Linked DNA regions of Homo sapiens. The protein of the gene in region 2 interacts with the protein of the main gene of each other region in a biochemical or structural test. Each region holds a gene or a part of one and is shown on either strand. Other genes may lie near its edges. The genes, in order: COTL1, ACTG1, WIPF1 and GZMK.

Region 1 (7,024 bases), on a different chromosome or scaffold from region 2:
CTGGAGGGAGGTAAAGTGGATCAGAGACAAAGAAATGACCACTAAATCTGGCAACTGGAATATTTACCAAAGACCTAGACATAGAGCTCCATGCTCTGGGTGTGGGTGGGCACCAGAATGAAATGGGGTAAAGAAAGGATGGGAGACAAGGAGGTATTTATAACACCTATAAAATCTGTAAGGGATGCTTTCAAAAAGTTTGCATTAACTTCTGAATATTTTCAAGGGACAAAAACCCAATTCACCTAGTGTTTAGGGAATGCTTTTTTTGAACTTGAGACACTGTACTTACCAGGAAGATACACATCTATCATCCTTCATCATTTTCTGTTTGTGGTGACACAGCCACAAACAGAAAAGAAAGCACAAACATCACCATGCAGTAGACTGAAAGAGCTACCACAAAGCCCACGCCCCTGTGGACACACAAAAAAGCTATGCAGCGTGGCTCAGGGCCTCCCAGCAACAGATCTGTGGGCAAAGAAGGCAATGGGAGACTGGATAGTGCAGAAAATTACAAAGGTAATGTTTTCGCAGCCCTTCAGGGTACCACTTAAAAACAAAAACCCAGCCGGGCGGGGTGGCTCACGCCTGTAATTCCAACACTTTGAGAGGCCAAGGCAAGTGGATCGCTTGAGCCCAGGAGTTCGAGACCTGCCTGGACAACATAGTGAAACCCTGTCTCTACAAAAGATACAAAAATGAGCCAGGCGTGGTAGCAGGCGCCTGTAGTCCCTGCTACTGGAGACGCTGAGGTAGGAGAATCGCCTGAGCTGGGAGGCAGAGGTTGCAGTGAGCCAAGATCGTGCCACTGCACTCCAGACTGGGTGACAGGGCACGACCTTGTCTCAAAAATTAAATTAAATTAAAAACCCAACATTGTTTCTGGAGCAAAGTAGGAACCCAATAAAATGTTTGTCGCATGCATTAACGGACAGACTGTTCAGCACTTTATAACTGCCCAAAGCCCTGTCACAGATTTGGAGCTTCTTTTTGATGTCACATTCCCTTAGACCTTAGGAAAGAAAGCAATTTCTCTCCTTCCCTTCTCGCCCAAATTTCTGAAACCCGGGTGTGTATGTTCAGCTAGGGAAAAAATATTCAGGTGCAAAACAGCACGATAAATAGACTGCCGGCTCTCTGTGTGTTGTATTGCCATATACGCAGAGGTCATGGACAGCAAGTGAATTTGACTCCTTCGCATTCCAGCTCCCTTCTTTTGGTCGCTATACTCCAGTTTTCCGTAGGAACCACCTCTCTGCCACTCTCAGTCTCTGTCATCCAGGTAGGGCTGATGCCACCTCCAAGAGGCATCCCCTAGGCCTGCACTAAGGCCAGTCAGTCTTCCTGGAGGCATAGCAGGCCAGAAAATGGGGCTGTGAGACAGGAGAGTGCAGAGGCAAGGAAGGCCTCCTTCAATCCTTTCTTCAACATCTATGCCAAGTGGTTAGTCGGACTCTCCTGACATACCTCCTGTGATGGGGGCCTCACTTTCTCCTCTGGTAGCCCGTTCTACCTTAAGGGCCTCTTCCTCTCCAGGTCAACCCAAAATCTATCTGATATGGTTTGGCTCTGGGTTCCCACCCAAATCTCACCTTGAATTGTAATAAGTGTCAAGGGCAGGACGGGGTGGAGATAATTGACTCAGGGGGGCAGTTTCCCCCATACTGTTTTGGTGATAGTTCTCACAAAACTGATGGTTTTATAAGGGGCTTCCCCCTTCACTTGGCTCTCAGTCTGTCTCCTGCTGCCACGTAAAGAAGGATGTGTTTGCTTCCCCTTTTGCCATGATTGTAAGTTTCCTGAGGCCTCCCCAGCCATGCAAAACTGTGAGCCAATTAAACCTCTTTTCTTTATAAATTACCCAGTCACGGGTATTTCTTCATAGCAGCGTGAGAAGAGACTAACACACTATCCCTGAATTCCTACTGCGTGGTCCCATTTACCACATAGGGTTGGTGTGGGGGTAGGAACACAAGAAGTCCACACTTACCACATGACAGCCCCTCAAACATCTGAAGACAACACTGGTGTCTCCCAAGGATCTCTCCTCTTGGTCTCACAAGGTTAAATATGCCCAATTTCCTCAGTCAGTTCTCACATGAGAGGCTTTAAATTCCTTGTCCAGCCTGGATTCTCCTCTCCTCTGAGACTGTGTCCAGCTGCCTAACCTGGAGACTATGGCCAGGACTCTTTTAGATGGAAACTAAATCCAGAACCCACTCACACTGGCCTGAGAAAAAATATTACTTGGCTCATGAAAGTGAACCGTCTAAAGAGAAAGCTTCAGGCATGGCTGGATCCCAGAGTTTTCTGGCACGTCACCTGTCTCCACTCCCACCACCAGGCTCTGTTCCTGAGTTCTCAGACAGGTACTCTCTATAAATGGTAGACATGCCCTGTGAGCTCCAAGCCCTCATTATTCTTATTTGTTTTAATCCCAGAGAAAGATAAAAAGACTCTTTACCAACAACTCTGTCCAAAGTCTCAGGGATGAATCTGATTGGCTAGATTTGAGTCACAAGGGCCCTTGAACCAATCGGTTAGCAGAAGAGTGGCTTGCTCTGATTGGACAGGTCTGGGTTATGTGCACTCTCACAGGAACTACATTGGTTGACCAGGATTATTATGAAATGGAAGGGAGAGGTTCCCCCAAAGGAGGGAATGCTGGACAGAAAAAAAAACATCAATCTCTACATCTCTCTCTGTGGTGTTTTGGGTTAAACACTACTGGCTGACCAGAGCCTCATGGGAATATCATCTCCACCCAGACCATCATCCAACAAATGTCACAGGGCACCTGCCTCCAACCAAGCATCTTCATGATGCTGCCCTTCATGAAGAAGCCTTTTCTGGTAACCACCCCACATCTCAAATTTATTTCAACCTATCCATTGATATGTAACACCTTCTGAAGGTGCTACTTTAACAATAACCACATTTATTGAGCTTTACTCTGTGTCAGGCAGTACTCTACAAGCATTATATGGAACAAGCCAGTTTATCCTTACAGCAACCTACATGCAATCATTATCCCCACCTTTACAGACGAGAAAACACAGACCCTGGGAGATCTGCCCAAGGTCACACAGCACAGCAAGGCTATCGTTCAAAGCAAGACGCCCCAGCCTCACCACTGATGCTCTTAACCAATCAGCTCTAAAATCTGCACCAACAGAAAACTGGACTCATTCCCAGATGCCTGGATTCCTTCTAAAATAAAACTGCTTGCAACACATAATTTGAGGTCCATGGATAGAGGATTGCTTTAACAATGTCACATTTGTATGAGAGAAACTACGTAGCCATTTTTAAACTGGTATTGCAGAAGAAGAGGGGAAGATAGGGAAGAAACTTTGGCATTACAGTTGTTGTGGGAGGTGGCTCTAAAATATCTATGATCCCCTTTTGTAGTAGAATTACATACAGAAAACTATTTCAAGAATATAGATAAAAATGAGACCAGCGGTCTGTCCTGGGAGATGACAATAAAATGTCAGCTCCACGAGGACAGGCGCCTTTTCTGCTTCTGTATTTATCCTCAGTGCCTACAGTCGTGCCCCACAGAGTAGCAGTCCCATATGTCGAATGAATTAAATGAATAAACAGGAGAATGAAGGAATAAACACAGGAAGGAACAAGTTCCTGAGTGTTTGCAAAACTATATCTGAACTATATCTACTTGGTATTCTCTTCTTTTGGTTTAGTCTTGCTTTATGAGTATGCCACAGAGAATATGTATTATCTGAATGGTGCAGAAACAAAATGTGATTTCACAGACAGCCCCAGCCACTGCCTCGCCACACATACGTGATCTGTAAGCCCTTTCTGCTGTGGCCAGGTAGATCATACAACCGGTCTGGCAAATGGCCCCTTTCCCTCCACCTCTGCCAGCTGAGCCCTGATTGCTCCAGGCTCCCAGTGGCTCTGTCAGGTGAACCTGTGACCCTCCAGCCCAGCTCAGCACCCATTTCCTTCCCATCATCTCTCCCCCTTCCATCTTCTTGGTGCTCTTGAACGCTACTTCCACATCACTTGAATTCCAAAAACAAAAATGGCAATCGCAGTAATTGACATTTATGGAGTGCTCACTATGTCCCAAGCAGCATAAGGACTTGCTTCCTTAATCCTCCTAATGACCACACTGTAGCAGGTTACCAGATGGGTAACTCACCTGCTCCAGAGCACATGAATGGCAGGTATTTGAACCCAGGCAATCGGACAAAACCCAAACCTTGAACTACTGAGCTAAGCACCTCTCATCATGCTCCTTCATGCAGACCCGGGCCAAGGGTCTAATGCGTGTCCACATGGGGCCAAATGCCTATTGCATACCAGCCTGGGCCAGGTGCCTACTTTGTGCTGAGTGGGGACGTGTACTGAAAGCTTCCGAGTGGAAAGCATAATGCCTCTACGAGTGCTATCAGAGTAAAAATAATTATTTGAGGCCGGGCGCGGTGGCTCACGCCTGTAATCCCAGCATTTTGGGAGGCTGAGGCAGGTGGATCACCTGAGGTCAGGAGTTTGAGACCAGCCTGGCCAACATGGTGAAACCCCGTCTCTACTAAAAATACAAAAACTTGCCGTGTGTGGTGGCACATGCCTGTAGTCCCAGCTACTTGGGAGGCTGAGGCAGGAGAATCTCTTGACCCCGGGAGGCAGAGGCTGCACTCCAGCCTGGGCGACAGAGAAAAACTTTGTCTCAAAAAAAAGAAAAGCAGTGGTAGGGGTAGCCAACACACACCGTGGCCTGTGCTCTCATTTTAGGTGCATTACTTCAGTGAACCCTCCCAGTCACCCTCAGAGGTAGGCATGTCAGGATTCCCATTTTACAGACCTAAAAACTGAGGCACAGAGGGAGGGAGGCACTTGCCCAAGGCCACACACACAATGAGTGAGAAGCAGAGCGGAGATGTCAATCTAGAATGACTCTTTCTTTCTTTCTTTCTTTCTTTTTTTTTTTTGAGATAGAGTCTCACTCTGCTGCCCAGGCTAGAGTACAACAGCGCGATCTCGGCTCACTGCAACCTCTGCCTCCTGGGTTCAAGTGATTCTCCCGCCTCAGTCTCCGAGTAGCTGGGATTATAGGCGCCGGCCACCATGCCTGGCTAATTTTTGTATTTTTAGTAGAGACAGGGTTTCACTGTGTTGGCCAGGCTGGTCTCGAACTCCTGACCTCAAGTGATCCACCTGCCTTGGCCTCCCAAAGTGCCGGGATTACAGGCATGAGCCACGGCGCCCGGACTAGAGTGTTTCTGATTCCAAAGTGTACTCAGAGTTGAAATGAAGAAGGAATCACACTAAGCTAGGTGGGTGGCTGAGTCCTAAATGAGTTGAGATGGGGAAGAGGAATACCGCATGGTAGAAACCTCCAAAATCAAAAGCACCAAGACGGGAAATGTTACAGTGTTGGGCTGCAGATGTGTGAGGGAGGGTGTGTGGAGCTACTAGAGAGGAGATATGGGTGGGGACAAACCGACTAGAAAGCCAAGCAGACAGCATGAGTGTAATCCAATGGGGCAGAAGGGAGCCATAGAAGGTTAATGAGCAGAGGAGTGACTTGATTAGAAATGTACTGTAGAAAGAATTACCCCAGCAAGGGAGGACAGAGTGGATACCAGACAAGGAAGATTAAGGGCAAATAGACTGTTGCTATGAAGAGGAAAGCAGAGATGTTAAGGGGCAAATGGACACTTTTGTGAAAGTGGCATGCCATTCTTCCCTAGGAAGCCACCTCCTCAAGTCAGTCTCCTGGTTTGAGTGGGGCTGCCCCGCCCCCCACCCACTCCAGAGGTGGGCATGTGATCCAGGCCTGGCCACGCAGAGTCTCCATGATTGGTCTAGGGATGGGCACATGACCTCAGGGCCAAAGACAGTCCAGGGACCCCCAAAATCACTGGCAAAGAGGCTTGCTCCGTCTTTCCACCAAGATGGCTCTGCCCAGGGGCTAAACCTCCCCCCTCCCCGCAAGAATGGAGGTGAAGGATGAAGACAGAGCTAGGAGGAGGAGGAGAGGCTGTTTGGAGTTCGGGCAGTCTTTGCTGCTGCTAGGACTTCCCCTGGAGTTTCCAGGCTAGAGGCCACAGTGGATTTTCTGCTTACATTAATCTGCACTGGGCATTTCTCACCGCCCTCGCAAGGTCTCTGACCATCCCAGGCGAACTGAGCTATGGAGCAAGAAGCAAGAGCGGAGGTAGCGGAGGGGCAGGCAGCGAGGAAGGCCGGGAGCCAGGCAAGCTCGGGAAGAAGCAGCGCAGACCCAGAGCAGGCAGAAAGATTGGGAGGATGAGTGCGGGGGTGGGAGGGAACTGGCCTGGCAGCACAGACACCCCGTGGCCCTCTGGAAAACAGCTCTGAGGGAGGAAAGGCCAGGCCAGGAGGCTGGGAAGAAATGAGGAGGGGAGGCTGGGTGGAGAGATCCCATTCTGGAAAGCCGTGGGGGAGGAAGGGGAGAAGGGACAGTAGCCTGAGGTGGGAGGGCCAGGGAAGGGGGTGTTTCAGAGAGAATGCCTGAGTGCCAGAGTGGGGAGGGTTGGGAGAAGAGCAGGACCCCAGGAAGGCCCACACCCTGAGGTTATAAGGAAGAAACTGGGTGCTGTTTCTGGCCTTCCAAGTCTGCTGGCCACCTTGTGAGATGTTTGGAAGCAGGAAGCCCGAACCAGAGTGGAACCTTTCTTCTCAGGCCTGTCAGGATACCTGGCAGGGAACTGGGGCCACAAAAGAGCCCTCTCTGAGTCACAAGTGGGCAACCATGTCATTTGCAACCTGCAAGCAATCCCACGAGAGGTGAGAATCTAAACAACCTCCTCAGAAGCCAAGAGCACCTGCCCCGAGCCAGCCTGCCTGGGTTCAAGTCCCAACTCTGCCACTTTCTAGCTGGGTGAATGCAGGAAGCCTATTAACCTCTCTGGGCCTCCGTTTCCTCATCTGTAGAATAGGAGTAACCTTAGTACCTGCCACACCAGGCTGTTCTGAGGTATGACCAAGATAAGGCACGTCGAGCGTGGTGACTGCTATCCAGCCA
Region 2 (7,019 bases):
TTCGATTTGGAAGAAATCGAACTGCTCAGTTTATTGTTAAGCCGTTTTCTCACCAGCCCACGAAGCCAAGCTGAGCAGCACCCACCGCCCCCACCCCCAAGACTACCCAATACTTCCAGGTTGGTCTGTCTTTCCCAGCCCACTTGCTACTTCCCCAAACAGGAGCCATTCATTGGTTACGGCAGCACTTTTATTTTTCCTTACACAATGACGTGTTGCTGGGGCCTAATGTTCTCACATAACAGTAGAAAACCAAAATTTGTTGTCATCTCTTCAAAGAATCGAGAATTGCGTACAAAAAAAACCTTACATAAATTAAGAATGAATACATTTACAGGCGTAAATGCAAACCGCTTCCAACTCAAAGCAAGTAACAGCCCACGGTGTTCTGGCCAAAGACATCAGCTAAGAAAGGAAACTGGGTCCTACGGCTTGGACTTTCCAACCCTGACAGACCCGCAAGACAAAACAACTGGTTCTTGCCAGCCTCTAGAGAAATCCCAGAACACTCAGCCCTGACACGTTAATACCCTGCACAGATCAGAGGCTGCTGGCCACACAGACTCACCAAGCCACAGACTTGTCTTCCACAAGCACGTTCTTACCTTAGCCACGAAGTGACCAAGCCACACGTACTAAAGGTTGAACTCAAAGATATGTACAGGGTATTAAACAAATACCAAGGGGAACAGTTAACTTCAATACAAGGTCAAAATCAGCAACAAGTTCTACAATCCAGTGCTGATATCAGATACAAGCTTCAAGGACAATTTCTTTTCGAAGGCTTATTCCAGTTTCGTGAGGCTAGCATGAGGTGTGTGCATTTGCCAGGGGCAAATTTCTATTCTCAATTAACCCATGCAGCAAATGCTACGCATCTGCTGAGTCCGTTTAGAAGCATTTGCGGTGGACGATGGAGGGGCCCGACTCGTCGTACTCCTGCTTGCTAATCCACATCTGCTGGAAGGTGGACAGTGAGGCCAGGATGGAGCCACCGATCCACACCGAGTACTTGCGCTCTGGGGGTGCGATGATCTGCAAAGACAGCCAGGCACGGCTTCAGCTCACAGAGCGCCCCCCAGTCAGCTCTCCCGAGCCAGGCAGAGGGCCACCAACCCCTCGACTCACCTTGATCTTCATGGTGCTGGGCGCCAGGGCGGTGATCTCCTTCTGCATCCTGTCGGCAATGCCCGGGTACATGGTGGTGCCGCCCGACAGCACCGTGTTGGCGTACAGGTCTTTGCGGATGTCCACGTCACACTTCATGATGGAGTTGAAGGTGGTCTCGTGGATGCCGCAAGATTCCATACCTAGGGGACAGAGCCCTCCCTTAGTGATGCTGTGTCACCGAGGATGTAAGAGTAGAAACCTTTAGCTCACAACACCTACCCAGGAAGGAAGGCTGGAACAGCGCCTCCGGACACCGGAACCGCTCATTGCCAATGGTGATGACCTGGCCATCGGGCAGCTCGTAGCTCTTCTCCAGAGAAGAGGAGGATGCGGCGGTGGCCATCTCCTGCTCGAAGTCCAGGGCGACGTAGCACAGCTTCTCCTTGATGTCGCGCACGATTTCCCGCTCGGCCGTGGTGGTGAAGCTGTAGCCTCGCTCAGTGAGGATCTTCATGAGGTAGTCGGTCAGGTCCCGGCCAGCCAGGTCCAGACGCAGGATGGCGTGGGGGAGGGCGTAGCCCTCGTAGATGGGCACCGTGTGGGTGACCCCGTCTCCAGAGTCCATGACAATGCCAGTGGTGCGCCCAGAGGCGTAGAGGGACAGCACGGCCTGGATGGCCACGTACATGGCCGGGGTGTTGAAGGTCTCAAACATAATCTGAGAAGGGACAAGGGGCGGCTTAGTCAGGGACAGAGACCCACGGCCACCCCATGCTCACACGCCACAACATGCTGCATGCCAGTGTGATGTGTGGAGAAAAGAAAAGAACGCAGGCAGAAACCAAATGAGAAACCTGGAGGCTTCAGGGAGGAAATGCCGGGAGAGGAACAGAGCCTGGAACAGCGAAAGAAACACTTAAATGTCAGAAATCAAGCCGGGCAGAAAATGACTGGGGAAAGGACGGGAGGAGCACGGGCGTCGGCCGAGCCTCACCTGAGTCATCTTCTCTCTGTTGGCCTTGGGGTTCAGGGGGGCCTCGGTCAGCAGCACTGGGTGCTCCTCCGGGGCCACGCGCAGCTCGTTGTAGAAGGTGTGGTGCCAGATCTTCTCCATGTCGTCCCAGTTGGTGACGATGCCATGCTCAATGGGGTACTTCAGGGTCAGGATGCCACGCTTGCTCTGGGCCTCGTCGCCCACGTAGGAGTCCTTCTGGCCCATGCCCACCATGACGCCCTGCAGGGGACGACCCGTCAGCCTCGCCGGCGACACCGAACCCACCCCGCAACGCAGAACCCAGGAGCCCCGCGGCGCCATCCACTCACCTGGTGTCTGGGGCGCCCGACGATGGAAGGAAACACGGCTCGGGGAGCGTCGTCCCCAGCAAAACCAGCTTTGCACATGCCGGAGCCATTGTCAATGACCAGCGCGGCGATCTCTTCTTCCATTGCGACCTGCCCGGAAAAGGATGGACTCAGGCGGGCGCGTCTGTAACACGGTCCCCTCCCCACAGCCACCTAATGCCCTCCCGCGGGGAAGCCTCGGCCCTGCCCCAACCCCAGCGGCCGTGGCCTCCAAGATCGCAACCGCCTGGAACCGAAGGCCGGGCCTTTTACGTAACGTCCACGGCTCGGAAGTCTGCACTGCGGCCGGGCCCCGCCCTGGACCCCCGGCGCCCCCCCAGCCCCGTCCGCCTGACCCGGCCCACCCCGCCTTTTGTTCCCGGGGAAGGCGCGACGAGGCCTCGGCAGCTGGAAGCGGGGCCAGCCGGGGTCGGGGGGCGCAGGCCTGCGACGTCCAGCTCAGGCCCCGGGGCGGGGCGCTCACCGGCAGAGAAACGCGACGGCGGAGCGGCGGAAGAACAGAGTGCGAGAGCTGGCAGCGGCGACTGAGACCGACCGCGGCCTCCCCCGCCGTTATTTAAGCGGAAGCGGCGCGCCCGCGCGGCCCGGCGGCGCGCGCGGCCCCAGAACATGTCCATATATGGCGATCTTTCCGAAAGCCGGGCACCCATTGGCCCGCCGGGCAGGGACACGTGGGGCCCCGGCCCGCCCCGCCCCCAGCCCGCACCGCCTCCCAACGGCCCCGCCCGCGCCACCCCCGCGCGCTCGCGACCCTGCGCGGGCCGGCGGGCGGGTCTGAGTTGGGGCGCCCTCCGAGGGTCGCCGGGAGGGCCGAAGGGCTGACGGGCCTGGCCCCTCCCCGGGACTGCCGCGCCGTGGGGAGGGCCCTGCTGCGCCCCGAAACTGCCTGACCCGGGGCGGGGCCGCGCCGGAGCTGGGGTGGGTCCCCGAGTCCCCGGCCACGCTGCGGGGCTTTGCTCCCTGGGACGTCCCTTGCAATCTTTCCCCTCGGGCTCCACGAGGATCTCGGGCGCCAGTGCCGGGCTGAGGAAGGGGCGCGGCGGGGGTCCGCGACGCTCTGCGTCCCTGGGCGCGGGGGAGCTCTCAGGAGCCCTCACCTCGCCCCGGTCACCATAGGAAACAGCCCGCCCGTCCCCAAGCGCAGCCACCACCATGCAGGTCCCTCCACGGGGCGCCCTGCCCCGGATCTCCGTTCGTTTGAAGACCGAGGCCCCTTTCTACCCGACCCGACACATCCCTGCCCCTCAAATCACAGGCCTGATTGTCCCCAGGCGCGCGCTCCGGGTTGGGGCTACCCCGCCCCCTTATGTGCTGAGAAGGTGGTGTGGAGTGAGGCCTTTGTTTCATTCTGGTCACCTGTAGACATTATAGGGAAACTGAGGTAGACAATGGGAGCCCTGACTTTTTTGAAGGTCGGCTCCCCAGCTTCGGGCGGTCGGGGGGATACCCTCTTCTGTTTACGATGCTAGTTAAGAGCAGCGATCAGGGCTGGCGTGGGTTTAGCCACAGGCTTGTCCAGGGCGCTCACTCCTCGCCAGGAGCGGCGCCGGTGCTTTGGTTACACCCCGAGAGGCGCCCGGCACTACGGTTTCCTTGTGCGCTGCTGGAATTTTCAGGGTTGGAGCGCCGGCCGCGTAGGGGTGGCAGTGAGGCCGCGCAGTGAGGGGACGGACTCGCCCGAGGTCGCAGAGCGTTCAGATTGACTCGACAGGCTGGGGGGCGGGGCCGGGGTCCCCACGCGGAGTCCGGGGCCCTGCAACGTTAGCTCGCGACCCCGTGTTTGGGAGTGACAACAGCGAGTCAGGGCAAGGCGGCCGGCCCAGCTCACCTGCGGGCTGCAGTCAGCCCGGACGCCGAGACCCGTGCCTAAGGCCCCCGTGCCCCAGGCCTCCCAGGGGTGCTGAGCGCCCCCAGGCCCAGAATCTCCGGGGGCCCGGGCAAGGCTGTCAGGTATGTTCCCTCCCGTGGCGAAGCCGGGGCTGGGCCTCCAACAGACCCACCCGGACTCGCGTCCCTGGGCAGAACCACACAGCCTGCTCGACCCCCGGGTGAGGACTTCCACTTGGGGGGTCCCAAGATGCGACGTCACACACCGAGGGACACGAGGCGGGTGGGGAATAGCCACAAGCCCCTCCATCCTGCGTTCACCCCACACTACGTTCTGCTCCGGGCCGGCCGGGGACCCTGCCCCTCCGGGTCTCTGGTCTCCTCCGAAGCTTCTTTGTCTAGGAAGTGCGGGGAGGTGCCGGCCCCGGGCGCGCGTCCCCGTCCCCCACCTTTCTTCCCCACGTTGCGGACCCGAGGCCGCCAGGGTCGTGGGGGCGGGGGCGAGGCTGGCGCCTCGAGACCCCCGGGTTCCCCGCCACCCGCAGGGCCTGAGCCGCGGGGAGGGGCGGGGAGGGGACGCCGCCGCGGGCCGGGGGTGGAGAGCGACTTCCTCCTCCGCGGCCGCGTCACGCGGCAGGGGTCAAGGTGTGGCCCAGGTACGCGGCGGGGGGCGGTGGCGCGGCCATATTTGGCGACTTCGGCGCCGCCGGAGCCCCGCCCGCCTCCGCCGGGAAGCCCGGCCCGGGGCAGCGCCATCCCCGCCCGCCGCCGGGCCTGAGTCACGGCGGGCGGGGGGCGGAAGTAACGGACGGGGGGCGCCCGCCCGGCGCTCCTGGCCTTATTTAGTCAAGGAGGCCGCCGATTGGCGCGCGGGACAGAGGGGCGGCGGCCGGGCAGCCTCGGGGCGTAGGAGTGGCCCGGCGCCTCCGAGGGGTCGGGGCGGGAGCCGGGCGTGGGGGGCCTCGGAGCCTGGGGAGTCCCGGGACCGACGGCGGCGGGGATGCGGGTCTGCCTGTCCCTGGGATGCGGGCGGGCGGGCAGGGCGAGGCCTGGAGCCCGCGGGGCGCAGGGGGCTGGACCGCGCGCTGTGATTTTTCTGTTTAGCAGCGGGGCCTCGCCCAAGGTCGCGCGGGGCCTGTCCTGGATATGCTCTGGGAAGCCAGTGGCGCAGGGCAGCCGCCACCCTTCTGGAACCAGTGCCGGAGAGGGCCGGGCAGCTGGGCCTGGGGAGGGGACCGCATGGATGGAGCTGGGGGTAGCTGGGCGGCCTCCGGAGCCGGGAGAGTCGGCAGCTGCACTTCCGCCAGAGGTGGGTGTGTCCTTCACATTTCAGGAAGGGAGACTTGGGGCCTGGAGAAGCGATGTGATTTTTCTTTTCTAGTTCAGTGCTGGTTTTGATGGCTTTTTATCATGACCTTGTTATGTCTTATTTTAGTTTCGGCCCATTTAGTGGATACGACAACAGTGGCCCAGGGAGGTATGGCAGAGCTGAGGCTTAACCCAGGGCCTGCGCCCTCCACGGCCTGCACTGCCCCACCTCCAGCTCCTTGCCCTGTTCCTCCCTCTGCACCGGATCAGCCCCCGGACTCTGGGTCACCTCCACACCAGTTGACAGGGCCCCCCAGTCCCCACCGCCAACCACCTGGCCGGCTACTTGTCAGACAGACATGGGGGCGTGGGCATGGGTCCCCACCCCTAGCCTTTGCCTCTGTCACTCTACCTGCCTGGAATGTCTACTTTTTCTTTATATTTTATTTTATTGTATTTTTGAGACAGTCTCATTGTCGCCCAGGCTGGAGCGCAGTGGCGCGATCTTGGCTCGCTGCAACCTCTGTCTCCGGGGTTCAAGCGATTCTCGGGCCTTAGCCTCCCGAGTAGCTGAGACTACAGGCGTGCACCACCATGCCTGGCTAATTTTTGCATTTTTGGTGGAGACAGGGTTTCACCATGTTGGCCAGGCTGGCCTGAACTCCTGACCTTAAGTGATCCACTCGCCTAGGCCTTCCAAAGTGCTGGGATTACAGGCGTGAGCCACCTCACCCAGCCTGGAGTGTCTCATCTTCCACCACTAAATGAAACGATGGACCCTGAACAGAAAAAGGAACAGTGGTGGAAGAACTAGCAAAGCCCACAGCCTTGAGTTTGGCCGTAAGTATCAAGGTTAATCTCTCAGTTATGGCAGTTGTCCCATGACCGTGTAAGATGCCAGGTTAGGGGACACTGGGAATAGAGCATTGGGAAACCTTCCCACTGTCTTTGCAACTTTTCTGTAAGTTTAAAGTTCTCCCATAATAAAAAGCTAACTTGAATCCAAGGCAAGCAAAGCTTCCCTACTCTCAGCCCACCTCCCTCTTCTCCCACACCCTTTTGGACAGATGAAATGCAAGGTGATGGCCCTGTTTCCTGAAGCTCTTTCCAGGGCCTGGCTGGCTCCCTTGGGCAGGTCTGGAGTGGGCTCTGCCTCTTCAGGAACAGTGGTCCCAAGGCTGGTCCCGGTGGGCAAGGCTGGTTTCCTGCAACTCGGCCTGGCTGCCTCTGAGTTTTGGCTCAAGGGACAAGGCCAGGGTCCCACACTTCTGTCTCCTGGCTGGTGCCCAGCTTGGGGCTTGGTTCTCCTGCCCCACTGCGCAGACTGAAGCTCAGAAGGCTCAGCTGGCTGCCCCCCACCCCACCCCTGCGGAGTCACTGGGCAGCTGGCTGTGAGTGGCCAGGTGCTGCTT
Region 3 (7,397 bases), on a different chromosome or scaffold from region 2:
ATAAGCAGAAGTGTCACCAAGTTTACCTCTGAAGAAGTGAAAAGACTTAAAAAGGAAAATATCTTACTTGAGATTGTTAGTTTTAAAGATATTTACTGTTGCTGTGACATTTAAAGCAAAACATTTGTAATCTCAGATTCCCAAGGCCGGAAAAGCACCTCAAGAAATCATACTGGCTGGGTGTCGTAGCTCATGACTATAATCCCAGCACTCTGGGAGGCCAGGGTGGGAAGATAGCTTGAGCCCAAGAGTTTGAGACCATCCTGGGCAAACATAGTGGGACCCTCATCTCTACAAAAAAAAAAAAAAAAAAAAAATATATATATATATATATATATATATATATAATTAACTGGGCATGGTGGCACACATCTGTAGTTCCAGCTACTTGGGAGGCTGAGGTGGGAGGACTGCTTGAGTCCAGGAGTTTGAGGGTGCAGTGAGCTGTGATCATGCCATTGCACTCCAGTGTGGATGACAGAGCAAAACCCTGTCTCAAAAAAAAAAAAAAAAAAAACAGAAAAGAAAAAGAAAAACAGAAATCATACAATTTATAATGTTGCTTCCAAGCTGCACTTGTGAAAAAAAGCTCTTACAATTCAGATAACTTCCTCCACATTTAGTTGTTAGGTGGCCTTGGGTAAATTACTTAGCTTATGTAAGTCCGGTTTTCAAAATAATAGCACCTACTTAGTAGGGTTATTCAAGAGTTAAATGAAGGAGTGCTTAATAAGTATTAGCCATTTTCAAAAAATAAAATAAGCAAAGGTGAAGAACGTAACACAAAATAAGTGGTCAGTAAATATCACAGTCTTTCCCCCTATTTAACCACGAGAAAGAGAAACCATGAGCTGATTTAAATCAGCCTATGTGTGTACACCCATGCAAACTTCCATATTACAAGTGAATGGTGAAGGGAGATGTGTATAAAGTGCATTTCAAATTTCTCAGAAAAGCATACTGATTAAGGCATTCCTTATTCTAGTATTTTTTTACAGTTTTAATTTTCAGGACAGACAGAGGTATTTATGGAAGTCCAGGAGAAATGCTTTCTTCAACAACAAGCACATGTTTAACAATTTGGACAAAATGAGTCAAACCTTAAAGCAGAAATATATCATAATTTAAACAGCCAGAAACTTCCAAAGTAAATGATGTGTGTTCATAAAATGTTAAGAAGGCTTCAAAAGGTCATAACACTTAAAGGGTCCAGGAATTCAGTATCACTTCATCTCATATTTTAGGTAGGCTGGGGAACTTCCAGCCTACAGGCCAGATTTAGAATTTGATCAGATCTGAAGTTGCTGCTCGATCCCAGGAACTAATTTTCACCACAGGGAGTTCTCTGAATATTTCAGTCCACCCAGAGTATGTGTAACCCTTAAAAGGTTAGATATTAGAGTAGCTGAAGCGCTATGAGCAAATAGCCCATGAATAAACTTTTCAAAGAGCAATAGAAAACCTGACTTAGTGAAAAATGACTTTCAGGTAAGTCATTTAATGACCTTAGACTGATAAAAGGAAGAGTTTTGACATGATGATATTCCAGTACAGAAGAACAAAGCTTGATAAAGTTAACACATAGCACTGTAGTCCAAGTGAATTGTAAGAGTATGATTTCCACACAGATCAACCTCAAAACCTTTTCCCAGTTTCTCATCTTCCTTTCTCACTGTCCTGTCCTATTCTTTCCCCAGTCTTTCATCTTTCTCTCTACCAAGCTGTCTTACTTTGCTTAGTTAGAATCTTTCAGTAGCCTTTTCATTTACCACCTCTCCATTCTCTACTACATATACTAGTTATGCCATTAAATTATTTAAAATAACTTGTATGCCTGTAATCCCAGCACTTTGGGAGGCCGAGGCGGGCAGATCACTTGAGGTCAGGAGTTTGAGACCAGCCTGACCAACATGATGAAACCCTGTCTCTACTAAAAATACAAAAACAAAAAAAACAAAAAACTTGTACTTAGTGACTAAAGTTATATGTGCCTTCTGAGTTTTTTAAAGCTTTATTTTATATTTCTTCACGGGGAGAAAGGAACATAAGTCAAATTGTTTCTTCCTACATATTCTAGAAAAAAGTTTTTTAATGTAAAAAGTTTCCTTAGTTCTGCTCTATAAGCCTCTGAGTAGATGGCTTGAAATTTTAAAAATCACAATATTTTATGCCAAAACATTAATCATATTAAACATAAAGTTATAACTAATGCTGTAGAATTTGATTTGCGATAGTAATTGTGCACACACTGTTATAACAGGAATAGACTTATTCTAAAAGACAAATCGTATTATAAAAGACTCTGCTTAGAAATGGTTTAGTTTGAGTTTTGAACTTAAATAGCACATTGGCAGCAACAGAACTGCAACAGCTTAGTTCCATGGTATTTTCGTTTGAAGCTTCCAATGGCTCCTTGTACTTTAAAGCACTTATTGTTGCTGGCCACACCAAAGATTCAAAGGCAGTTGTGTGGACAACTGTATCATACACCAAAAGGATATATTTACCGACATAAGCCCCCAATTTAAATGGGAAAATAAATTCCTGTGGATCCAAACTTGTCCAGTGGTCAAAAAAATTCTATTGAAAATCTTGCTTACATTTTGGCTCAAAGCATAAGTTATGAATCATTCACAATCACCATAGTGGTGAAACTAGCATTCTGGGCAACAGGAATAGCTCACATGGTGCTCTACAGAAAAATTAAACAACTTTATCTTGACATACTATGGTCCATTAAAAGCCATTTAGTTCTTCCCTGTAGCTGATAAATGAAATAAACTTAGTTTGAATATAATTTTTCTTACCGTTAAAGGGTACTGCAGGGAGCCATGGTCAGGGACACAGGCAGACAGAGGGCCAGCGGGACAGGAGCCAAGAGAGAAAACTGTCCCTGAAAAAGGTATCATCTTCTAACGCAAGTGTGGGGTCGTTTTTGGACAGCCATTTTGGACAAGCTCTGGCCTCTTGTTAAATGTGACATACTGAGTCAGAGGCAGACGTCCTTCTGTGGTTATTCGCTTCCTGTCTGATTAATTTGTTGTTTGTTGTTCCTTCCTCCTTTGCTGCAGAAAAAGAAACTAGATTGGTTTTGCTTAAGAAGCAAGCAAGAAAAAAAACCTAAATTAAAAAAAATTAAATGTTTCTCCTCCCCACAAGGTGTAATACACAGCTATTTGGTACAGTGACAAGAGGAGATGAGCACCTCCACTCAGTGAAGAGTCCAACTTTATTCTAGATATTCCCACAAAAATAACTGTTCATGGAACTTGAGATTCCTTTAGGAAAATTATATTTGAAAGTATCACTGTAAATACTGACTATTCCATTGAGTAATAGGGAAAAGAGTCACTCAAGAAAGAAAAGCTCTTACCTACCTTACCTTATCGCTTCATTAGGCTAAGGGCTTCTTCTCATTTACAGGGCATTCAAGTGTGTGGGGAGAAAGTTACAAATGCAGGTAAAGAGAGCAGGTCAGGTGTATGAAGGCAAATGAGGTTCTTTTTTTGGTTTTGTTTTATTTATTTCTTTTTTTTTAGAGAGACAGTCTTGCTGTCACTTAGGCTGGAGTGCAGTGGCGTAATCATAGCTCCCTGTGGCCCTGACCTCCTGGGTTCGAGCAATCCTCCAGCCTCAGCCTCCTGAGTAGCTGAGACTACAGGCATATGCCACTGCACCTGGCTAATTTATTTTATTTTTATATTTGGTAGAGATGGGATCTTGCTTTGTTGCCCAGCCTGGTCTTGCACTCCTAGCTTCAAAGTGATCCTTCCATCTTAGCTTCCCAGATTGCTGGGATTACAGGCTTGAGCTACCATACTTGGCAGCAAATGAGTTTTGAAACGTGATTTTGGTGCCCAAGTCAGGGTAATAATATACAGCTTAAGTCAGCTGCAGATCCATAGCTTTCTATGCCAAATGTTTCTGTCCCCCACACTTAATGGGATAACAGTAACTCTCCTAGAAGATGCTTGACAAAAGCATAGAGATAAAGAGGGTGGAAGGAAGAAAGTCAGATTTCTCATTATTAAAGAACTCAAGAGGTGGATGGCAATGGAATACATGTAGAAAACATTTTATCAAAACCTTGAGTTATGTATAGAACGATCTGAAAATGCTCATAATTTTTTCTTAACCCATCTTAAAGGTTCAGACTTACATATGCAACACATAGTATATAACTCTGAGAAAACAGTAACAGTCAAAGAATTTAAAAGAGAGGCATATTTCAGAAACTAGCTTCATTGTAAAATCTGAATGTTGGGTCCTGATTCTGCTAGGATCAGAGGCCAGAGGCATGAAAAGAACGTATGTTGTCTAACATTGCCTTACCTGTAAAGTGATGGAACTGGGCTAGATGAGTAATTTTCAACTCAGGTAGCTGTTGGGGGTGGTGAGCAGTGAGTGGGAATGGTGGGGGCAGGGGCCTGTAGCATTCAGTGGGTGGGGCCAGGAATGGGAAATTTCCTATGGTGCTTATGACAGTCCCACCCAAAATACCAGAAGTGCTCCTACTGGGGAGTACTGGGACAGATGATGTCTAAGGATCTTTTAAACTCAAAATTCCCTGAGATAGGAGTCTAATTGCATGAGCAGATTCATGATGCCAGGCCATGGGCACAGTTCCTGGAGTGGAGTACCCAAGAATAAGTGACTGAGAGTCCTCTGCTTTGCCTGGAGCCCCTTGAAGGCAGGGACCGCCTCTTGTCTAACTCTGGCCTGGTGTCCACCCGTGACTTAGGTCACAAATAAATACCTGCAGGCATGGGGCTGGACAGAGGTGGAGGCCTACAGCTATCAGCCACTTCCCGCGATACAAACCCTCAGGAAAACAGAAAACTTGATCAACTATTAAGTAAATGCCTGAGTGAATCTTTGGGGAAGTCTAATTATAGTTGGGTCTAAAAAGAGAACATGGGCGATATGACAATTTCTCTACGTATTTTCAGAATTATTTTGAAGTTCTCTAAGTAAGACACCCCAAACACACACACACACACTCTCTCTCTCTCTCTCTCTAGCTATCTCTCTCTCTCTCTCTCTCTCTCAGTACACATACCATTCATGGCTATTTCCATCCCTTAGGGGAGTGGTCCCTAACCTTTTTGGCACCAGGGACTGGTTTTGTGGAAGATAATTTTTCCACGGAGTGGGGGCAGGGGGTGGGGATGGTTTCAGGATGAAACTGCTCCAACTCAGATCATCAGGCATTAGATTCTCATAAGGAGCTCGCATGCACAGTTCACTTTAGGATTCTTGCTCCTCTGAGAATCTAATGCGCAGCTGATCTGATAGGAGGCAGAGCTCAGGAGGGAACACTTGCTCACCAGCTGCTCACTTCCTGCTGTGTGGCCTGGTTCCTAAGGGGCCATAGACTGGTTGGAGACCCCTACCTTAGGAAAAGCTCACTTAGAAGGGAGTATGTCACCTAGAAGGCTGCAGTCCCCAAGACATGCAAGGGAGTAGTTGTGTAGTTTGAGTCTATTCCTACAGTCAACTTTGGACACATTTATCAGGTGTCTACTATGCATGTTAGGACATAAATTAGATAATGTTCCTCCCCTGCTTAAAACCCTCCAATGACTTCTCATTTCACTTAAAAAGTCCAAACTCTTAGGTCCACAGGGACCCACGAGATCTGGCCCCTCCTTAACTCTCTGCCTTCATCTCAAGTAATATTCTGCCTTGCTAATTTACCTTCCAAATCTTTCTGTTCCTTAAATGCACCAAGCTCATTTGCATCTTCAGGCCTTTTACTTGCAAGCCTGGTACTCACGCCTGGTACACTCATCTTTTTGTTCCTTTTTATTCTTCAAATGTCAGCAAAAATGCTCTCCCTCATGACCCATTTCTGCTGTTTTCTTTTATGCATAGCATGCGTCACCGCTTGACACTGTCTTATTTATCTGTTTATTTACTTGTATGTTTCTCTCCACTAGAATTCAAGCTCTATGAGAGCAGGGACCTTGTCCATCTTGTTTCTGCTGTTGCTTCAGCATCTAATGCAGGTGTTTGACTGCTGTTGCTTCAGCATCTAATGCAGGTGTTTGAAAATAGTGTTTGTTGAATGGAAAAGAAAATCAATGTTTCTTACGAATTCTACTACAGCATAATGTTCCTTTTTTTTTTTTTTTTTTTTTTTTTTTTTTGAGACAGAGTCGTACTCTGTCACCCAGGCTGGAGTGCAGTGGCATGACCTTGGTTCATTGCAATCTTCACTTCCCAGGTTCAAGCGATTCTCATGTCTTGGCCTCCCTAGCTGGGACTACAGTCGTGCACCACCACGCCTGGCTAATTTTTTTTTTGTATTTTTAGTAGAGACGGGGTTTCGCCATGTTGGCCAGGCTGGTCTCCAACTCCTGGCCTCAAGTGATCTGTCCACCTCAGCCTCCCAAAGTGCTGGGATTATAGGTGTGAACCACCACGCTGCCCAGCATAATGTTCCTTTAAAAGCTTAAGACTGTTCCCCCTGAAATGGTAAATAACAAATGCCAAGACTAGACTTAAGCCTTCTTGGGAGAAGCTGTTAAAGGGAAATTTTCCAGAGAAAAGGTCAGCAGGTAAAACCCTTGGCCCATCAGTGGGCCTGGCAGTGCAGGCAGAGTCTTATGCAGTGCAGGTGGCTTACACCATTGGGCAATGTGAAGAGAAAAATGGATTAAGAAAATTGAAAACAAATAGAACAATCAGAAAGGAAGGGGGGGAAATAAAAAGATAAAGAAAATAAGGCAAGAAAAGCTGGAGATGGGGAGAGATCATGTGGTGGGTAGAGGAGAGCTACAACCACACTGCTGACCTCAGAGGCTTTGGAAGCCACCTCTGCAGTGGATGACCCACAGGTGCTGGATGTAACAGTGCTGTCTGGCCTTCCGCAGTGAAGCGGAGTTCTCAGCTCAGTGTCAGCTTTTCCAGCAGCCACGTTCTTTAAAAAGAAAAGAACTTTAAGGCTGCAGGAGACTTGCAGAGATCAAAGTCTACATCACCACTTACAGAGGAAGAAACAGGGGTCCAGAGAAGTTAGGCATCCTGCTCATGTCACACAGCTGGCAGCAGCAGAGCAGTGGCCAAAGCCTGGGCTCCACTCCACTGTCCAGCGCCATTAATGTCTTTAGCCTCATTTCAGGTTCGGGTGATACCACCTACCTCCTTTCTGTAAGTACAAGAAGAGGCAGAAGAAAGAGGGTGGAGAGAAAGGCTGTGATGCGGATGGGAGAGGTTGTTATACTATAACCAAAGGCCTGAGATAAGTGGATTGAAAGCCTGGATGAATAAAGACAATCACAATTCTGGACTTAAAGAGAATTTTAAATGCGTATCTCTTTCCCATTTAATATGCATCAGTCTGAGCTTAATGACAGAGTAAAACAATAACCAATAGGCTCGCAGACCAATCACAT
Region 4 (7,225 bases), on a different chromosome or scaffold from region 2:
ATTGTATAACAATACTCGATAACATCTATTAAGTTCTTTGTGTTCTGTGCTAAGCATTTTACAAAGCTTCCCTCATTTAAACCGCACAACAGCGTGGTGAGATAGGTATTATGACAATCCCCATTTTATAGATGAAGAAATTGAGGTTCAGGTAAACGAATAAACTTGAGGACCTTTGCCTCCAGGAGGCAAATTCGGGCAGGATTAAAGCTCAGTTGGCTTGAATCTAGAGCCTGAACATTGAACCATTTTGTTCCAGGAGCCTTGAGCATTTGAGATGGAGTGAGGCCATGTGGAAGGGGCTGTGGAAGGTTCCATCTAACAACTTGCTAGGCAGGTTGGGGCAGGAGGAAGTGCTCTGTGAGAGGGGCCTGGGAGAGAATCAGGAGAACAGGGTACAACAGCTGGTGAGAGTTTTGCTTCTGGTAAGTTAAAATGCTGAAAATAAGTTTGTACAGGACATTTTTTATCAATTTCCTTTTATATTTGACATGGCAACTAATAAAGGGGCCAGAATATTGAGGGAGGAGATGTGTGGATGGCTGGTGAGAAGGGAGCACTCCCAGGTTTGGCCCTCTTCAAAATTTTGCTGAGAGAGAGGCTTGGGGCAAACTATTCCCACAGGATACTGGGGAGTACATTTGTGGGAAGCCACCATTGAGCTATTTTGTAAATATTTTGAATTTCATAAAGCTTAATATTTTTCCAACCACCGATCTGCCTACTTTTTACACCCAAGTGTCCTGTAGAGGAAATTTGATCTACATATTTTGCAGTTCTTTATACCCCAGCCATTTAAAATGATATTTAGCAATAGTTTGTTTTAAGAAAAAAAAAACAAAACACAAAAAACTCCAAGACCTCTCTCCAGTCTTTTGTCAATAATCTCTTTCCCCAATTTGGGAATCCGCTTCTCGTGAGTTAAATCCACTTGACAAAATTTAAAATTCAACTTAGTGATATTATTTAATTTCCTATAACACTTTATGGCTAGTGAAGCACTTTTTCATACACCATGTTTCAGGCCTAGCCAAAGAAAGAAAGAAAGAAAGAAAGATCTTTCAGTGTATTTCTTTCTTTCCATCCAAAGTTTGTTGAACATTTAGAAGTCAAGCTCTGTGTCTGGGGAGGTTATAGACCATTTGAATGTGTATTATGAGCATATTTGAAGATGTGCATATTTTGCATCAAATGAACATTCGCTGACAGTTCCCCACTCTGTCTCTCTGATCTCGAGGGGGCAAATGCCCTGGAGAAGAGAGAAGTGATGGGGATGAGAGTGTGATTTCTATGAGGGCAAGAACCCTGTGTAAATGAAGTAACCATATTAAATTGGAAATCAGTGGCTTGCTATTTAGAGATAGCAGAAGATCTCCCAGTTTGCAGGCTTCAAAACTTCCAATTTGTGATCAAACAGTTCCATTTAAATGGGGTAATCAGACAAAACCCCCAAAGCATAGAAAAGCAAATCAATTCAATTGTTCTGTTTAGATATAGACAATGCCTGGAGAGCAAACCATTACAGCTAAGAGAGATCTTTAAGTGAAAGAAAAGGAGAAGGCTCCATTTCAGCTTATTAGGTAAGAAACATAAGGAAACATATATACAAACAAAAAACAAAACCAAAAACCCAAGCAAACAAACAAAACAACAAATACCAAATTAGTTTTCTACTGGCATTTCCTTTTGTGATGGTTGCAGCATCCCAAGAGGGGTTTTGTGCTTTATTAGCTGAAGTAAGAGAATCCTAGGCTGAAATGGACTTTGGAAGGTTTTACTCTGTCTTCAGAAAAGCTTTCATTCTAAGTATCCTAGAAAATAACTCTCTCATTATCTTTCTCTTTCTAGAAGTCATCAATAACTTGTTTTTTTCCACCTAGGAAAGTTGTAAGTGGTGAGTAGCTACTGTTAGGTAGCTACTGTTAGGAGTGGCAAAGTAGGCTTCTCATGCGTATAATACTAATGATAATAGCTGCAATTTTTTTGTGCTTACTAAATGTGCCAAGCATGCTAAAATACTTAAACAGATACTATTTAATTCTCAAAACCCACAAAGCAGGTATGATATGATTATTACCCCTTTGTAAAATGGGGAAGCTCAGAGCACAGAGCAAGCTCAGGTTGTCTGATTTCCTTTTGAGCAGTGTGATCTAACAAGGTCAAGAGTACTGCTGCTTCAAGTATTACTGTTGCTGTGTTCCCTGCATTATACAGAGGACTTGAATTTGTCTAATGTCTTGCCTGGGAAAAGCAGCTCAGTTCTCTCTGAAAAGGAAAACCCAAGACAGAAAGCGTGGATGTGGAAGAAGGTAAATAAACGCCACCAGTTGGTCAGTAACCACAGAAGCTAACAGTAGATCAAATTCTCATTCAGGAGAGGTAAGCTTCTCTTGTACCTATAATAACTTTCAGAAAAAACACATGTCTGGAAAAGTGTGGAGGACTCACCGATATTGGCAGTGGGCTGCTGTCAGCACCCACTGTGGATCAATCAGAACACCTCCACAAACGTGATGTCCGCCATACTGGATGGAGGCCATAAATGGCCTGGAATGAGGTGACACTTCTTTCCCTCCAATAATTTCCATATTGAAACCTACAAAAGTAGACCAAAAGGTTTCACACAAAAGATCTAAACTACTGTTTCATGTAATTCTTCCAATGACAGTCACTATATTATTTTCAAAGCTTAAAAAACAACAATAACCCTACCTAAAAGCTACAATAATTTTACTGATGAAAAATTTGTATAATACATTACAGTTCAGAAAGATAGGAATGATTGTGAAAATAATTTTCATCTATAATATAACAATATAGTCAGTAGAAATTCATTTAATGTTTACATGTAGATATAGGAGATACTTACACACATGAGTCATATAAGCCCCAACTATTAGGAAAAACAGAGAAAAGGAAGAAAACTTAGTCATTTTAAAGATTTAGATTTAAGAAGCCCAGATGAAATGTGTTGATCCTGTGATGAAGGAAGAAGATTCTGAAGACTGAGTTTTGTTCTTGTAAGTTTTGACTTTCTCACCACAGGTGCTCTAGGGGTAAGATTTTTTTTCACACCTAGGTGTAAACGTTATGTATCAGTTTGGGGACTTTCAGGTCTGTGCTTTTAGCACTTTTTTGTTTTGTTTTGTTTTGAGACGGAGTCTCTCTCTGTCGCCCAGGCTGGAGTGCAGTGGCGCGATCTCGGCTCACTGCAAGCTCTGCCTCCTGGGTTCACGCCATTCTCCTGCCTCAGCCTCCCGAGTAGCTGGGACTACAGGCGCCCACCACCACATCCGGCTAATTGCTTTTAGCACTTTTTTGGGAGAGGTATGTATGCCATAAAGAACTCATATCTGGAGATACCATCTCTAATACCTGTATCAGAGTACTTATGCTATAAAGAAAATTTATACTATATGTGTATATAATATTTATAAATGAAAAATATCCATGCCATAAGAATGTAATGAAGTTGCAGACAGAGTTCAAAGATGTCCATTGCTCTCAAGCAATACTTACTATTTTTCCTGGCACAAAATGGTGCCTATCATATTTCATTCTTCTCTCTTTTTCATTTGGACATAGATTTATGATGAAGAGAGACATGGACCTTGCACAGATTATGGTTACTTCACAATGTGGCTTAGCTAAAGCCTGAGCACCAACCAGAGAAAACCATATGTTTTGCAGCAAACATCCCTACTCATGTCGTTTCTCTAAGTTTGCCCAAATTTGGTTAAATTTTAGTTACATTTTTGTGAGATTTCATAATGTTGTTAAAGGTGAACATTGGCAACTATTTTTGATTCAGAGTCTCTCTTTTACTCATTTTTAATTGAAAATGGCCATGTGTTTTTCCAGGGACTTAATAATAATGTCTTTTAAAAATAAAGGACTGCATTTTGTAATTCTTCCCAGGAACAGATGACAATGCATTGCCAGGCCTTCAATACAAAAGGTATTAGACTCAAGATTCTACAAGATTCTGTTTGTGCCAGACACTGATCAGCAGTGCAAATATAAAATGAATACAAACAGATCACGCATCAGAATGCCAATCACTTCCTAGTAACACTGATCAAAATTTGCATTAAATCAACAGATCTTTCTTTTAAGAGGTATGCATTTTATCTTCCATTCATTTTAGAAAGGAGAATTAAAATCCAGAGCTATTATGCTCGGCAGATTGCAAGAGACTCCTTTCAAATTGTTTTCTAGCACAAAGAGTAGGAATAATAAAAAATAATACTATAATTATGTATTATTCATTATAACTTAATAATATATAAGTAAAATACCTTATTTCCAAAATTCTTTTTATATGATCATTTATGGTTTCATGTCTATGTCTTTGAGGAAAGCAGGACAACTTATGTTACAATGGAAGAAATAAGTTCCAAGAGGCTAAGTAATTTGCCCAAGGCAACACAGCTTATGACCTAGACCAAATCACCTGCCTGACCTCCCTGTATGTTAAGTTGTATGTGAATGAGTACCCTCCCAGAACACAGAATTTTATAAAAAACCTGCTTTCCTTGTACAGGTGTGTGGCAACAGTAAAGCTTTCTACATGTTAAACAGAATGAACAAAACCAACGCAGAGCAGTGACTTCCTGTCAGAGCAGAAGGTGAGATAAGGAGGAGCCAGATTAAGAAAAGCCACAAGCTTAATAAACCAAACTTATTACTCCCACTCAAATGTCCCTGTGAATTTTCAAGTCATCTTTGTCACTGTTGATGTACCTTGGATGCTCTACTGTGTGCCATTGTTCCACATTGGAAGGCAGACAGGATGGCGTCAGTTCCCTGCTACATCCCAGTGATGCTGGGATCGTAAGGAAGATGGTGTGTGACAGGTAGAAGTGATCCAAACTCTAAGGAAGAAATAAATTGTAAAGGACGAAGCTTTGTGTGTGTGTGTGTGTGTGTGTGTGGCGGGGGAAATGGGAATGGTTACAAACATCTCTCAGCTGCTTATTTCTGAGTAGTAAGGATTAATGTCCACATAGCGTTGTACAAATTGCTGAACGTTTTTAGCTGTATTTCCAGGGAAGTGGTTGTCATTAGTCTTGTTTTATGGATAAATAAACTGAAATTCAGGGACTTGCTTGAGATTACCGAGCTAGCAGGTGGCCCTTAAGCTCCTATGTGCTGGCTCCCGGCTCTATGTTCCTTTCAACCTGGCTACATGCCTGCCTCCTTTGAGAAGTCCCTGGGGGTTTAGGGGCTCTGAGACACAAGCTAGCTGTGCAGAAGAGAAAAAGGATTTAGCCATACACACTGCGTGTAATTAGACATGGGTGAGATTTAGTTCAGTTGGGAAGAGTCTCATAACTCTTTCTTGTAGCTGACCTAGAAAATTCTGAGAATCATGTTGGTTAATAGTAATGAGTTATTTGGTTTTGGCTTTAGACCGATTTGCCAGTTAATAGTATCATTTGTTATTATATTCACGATTCTGGATTTGAGAACAGTGGGCTGTGTAACATGATGAGCTCGGCGATCTAATTTATTTCTGGGTGTTGGTTTTTGTTCTGTTGAGTCTGCTGCAGGGAGGGCCATGTTTGCTTTGGATGGCTTTACAGCAACTGTACCGGACTGAGCAAGTGCAAGGCTGTGCTCAGAGGAGGGCTGGCTTCACACGTCATAGCCTTGTGGCTCTTCTTTGCTGTGTTTAGCTGTCTTTCTTGCTGCTCTTAGAGATGTTTTGTTTCTGCTTCTCCTGTGTTTCAGGAGACCCTTATAGAACAGCTGTGCCACTGCTCCAAAGGCCTCGTGTGGTTCTATCCCTTGGACTGCCTTTCTTCAACAGCCCAGACACCTGCTCTGTCAGATTTATAAGCCACACCCCCTAGAGCCATGCCAATCAAAGCATGGCCCGCAGACCTGTGCCAGTCTCCGAACCTCTTTGTTACCGATTTGGAGCAAGATGGGGACAGAAATTGAGAGCCAGAGTTTAGAAACTGTAACAGCGACTTAACATGGCACTGTATTAATTTATTTTATTAATGAAATAAAATTTGTCCAATCTAATAAAAATTGGGTGTGTATTTTGTATGCCTTTGTTTTTTATTTAATTACTTTTTTCTATTTATTTGTGTTGTATAAACGTATCAGTTCACAATGGGCTGAAACTAAAAACAAACAAATTAACAAACTAAAACTCCAAACACATTGGTCTTTCCCACAGGTAGTCTGAGAAACACTGCTCTGTAGACATAAGTGCAAAGCAGATTTGTTTCAAGCTCTTCCCATTTATTCCCTTTTACATTCCTTTGAAAAATGTTCTCAATATCAAGTTTTCCCAAGCTATCCAACCATCCCCAGCCCTTGGCACTTGACATCAGGATTTGGCAGAATTTCACTGGATCCCTCCCTTGTAGCCCACCACCCTTCAGGCCTTGACTTCTGTCCAGTAATGGCTTAGCTAATTTGGTAAATGTATCTGCTAACACCCATAGTGAAACTATGGCAGCTTTGAAAATTGGGCTTGGGAAGGATATTGGGGTGCTATATAATGATATTAAGTCCGAAGTTCTCAAGAAAATGTAAATCTCACCTCAGATTACAGCCATCCCTCCCACTAGGTCCTTAAAATGAATGAGCTTAAGGGCAGTTGGCAAGGAAAGCAAAGTACCCCTCAACTCAGAGCTGGGGCTGTAATAAGGGTTGGGGCACCTGGAATACTGCCTTTTCCTAAGCAACTTAAATGTAAATACTTCAGAGGGCTGCTCTAGGGCCTCTTCTTGGTGGAATGATGGTGGTGGCAAAGGTGAGATTGAGGGAAATTTGTTTTGTCTTCCTCTATCTCAACTTTAAATCAGAATATATTTTGCATGTTAAATCTTCCTTTCATAAATATGAAGATACGTTTTCTAAACCATCATTATTGAGTTAAGTCACACAATAGTACTTCAACTTCCTTTTCCTTTACTCCTCTCCACGTCAGCTATGAAGTGACTGGAATGGATGAGAATTGCCTTAAGTGCAGGATCCTCACATATGGAGTAATCAGGAAAATACCTTGAGGACTTGGCAAATAGGGATGTCCCAGCACTGCTGGTGCTGGCTGCCTGGTCATACACTGTCCCTATCTCAACTTTGTCTCCAGGCCTTACACTGCCCTTTTATGACTCCTTTTTCTTTTCTTCTTTAGAGCAGGCTTTGATGTTCATTTTAACTAAGTTCAAATGTTATGGGTGGGATGAGGAAAGTGCCACATGGG

The links.
Region 1: the proteins of ACTG1 (region 2) and COTL1 form a complex in vitro, tested with the Homo sapiens proteins (one study listed by BioGRID).
Region 3: the proteins of ACTG1 (region 2) and WIPF1 form a complex in vitro, tested with the Homo sapiens proteins (one study listed by BioGRID).
Region 4: of the proteins of ACTG1 (region 2) and GZMK, one has a biochemical effect on the other in vitro, tested with the Homo sapiens proteins (one study listed by BioGRID).

Annotation. Positions count from the first base shown.
Region 1 is NC_000016.10:84,608,055-84,615,078, forward strand, and holds part of COTL1 (coactosin-like protein), read right to left. Parts: intron 1-7,024. UniProt on the Homo sapiens protein: Binds to F-actin in a calcium-independent manner. Has no direct effect on actin depolymerization. Acts as a chaperone for ALOX5 (5LO), influencing both its stability and activity in leukotrienes synthesis.
Region 2 is NC_000017.11:81,509,799-81,516,817, forward strand, and holds ACTG1 (actin, cytoplasmic 2), read right to left. Parts: upstream 3,002-7,019; 5' UTR 2,936-3,001; exon of another isoform or gene 2,817-2,935; intron 2,563-2,816; 5' UTR 2,557-2,562; coding exon 2,434-2,556; intron 2,345-2,433; coding exon 2,105-2,344; intron 1,829-2,104; coding exon 1,390-1,828; intron 1,311-1,389; coding exon 1,129-1,310; intron 1,036-1,128; coding exon 892-1,035; 3' UTR 173-891; downstream 1-172. UniProt on the Homo sapiens protein: Actins are highly conserved proteins that are involved in various types of cell motility and are ubiquitously expressed in all eukaryotic cells.
Region 3 is NC_000002.12:174,594,794-174,602,190, forward strand, and holds the start of WIPF1 (WAS/WASL-interacting protein family member 1), read right to left. Parts: upstream 3,012-7,397; 5' UTR 2,808-3,011; intron 1-2,807. UniProt on the Homo sapiens protein: Plays a role in the reorganization of the actin cytoskeleton. Contributes with NCK1 and GRB2 in the recruitment and activation of WASL.
Region 4 is NC_000005.10:55,020,031-55,027,255, reverse strand, and holds the start of GZMK (granzyme K precursor), read right to left. Parts: upstream 3,001-7,225; 5' UTR 2,934-3,000; coding exon 2,870-2,933; intron 2,597-2,869; coding exon 2,449-2,596; intron 1-2,448.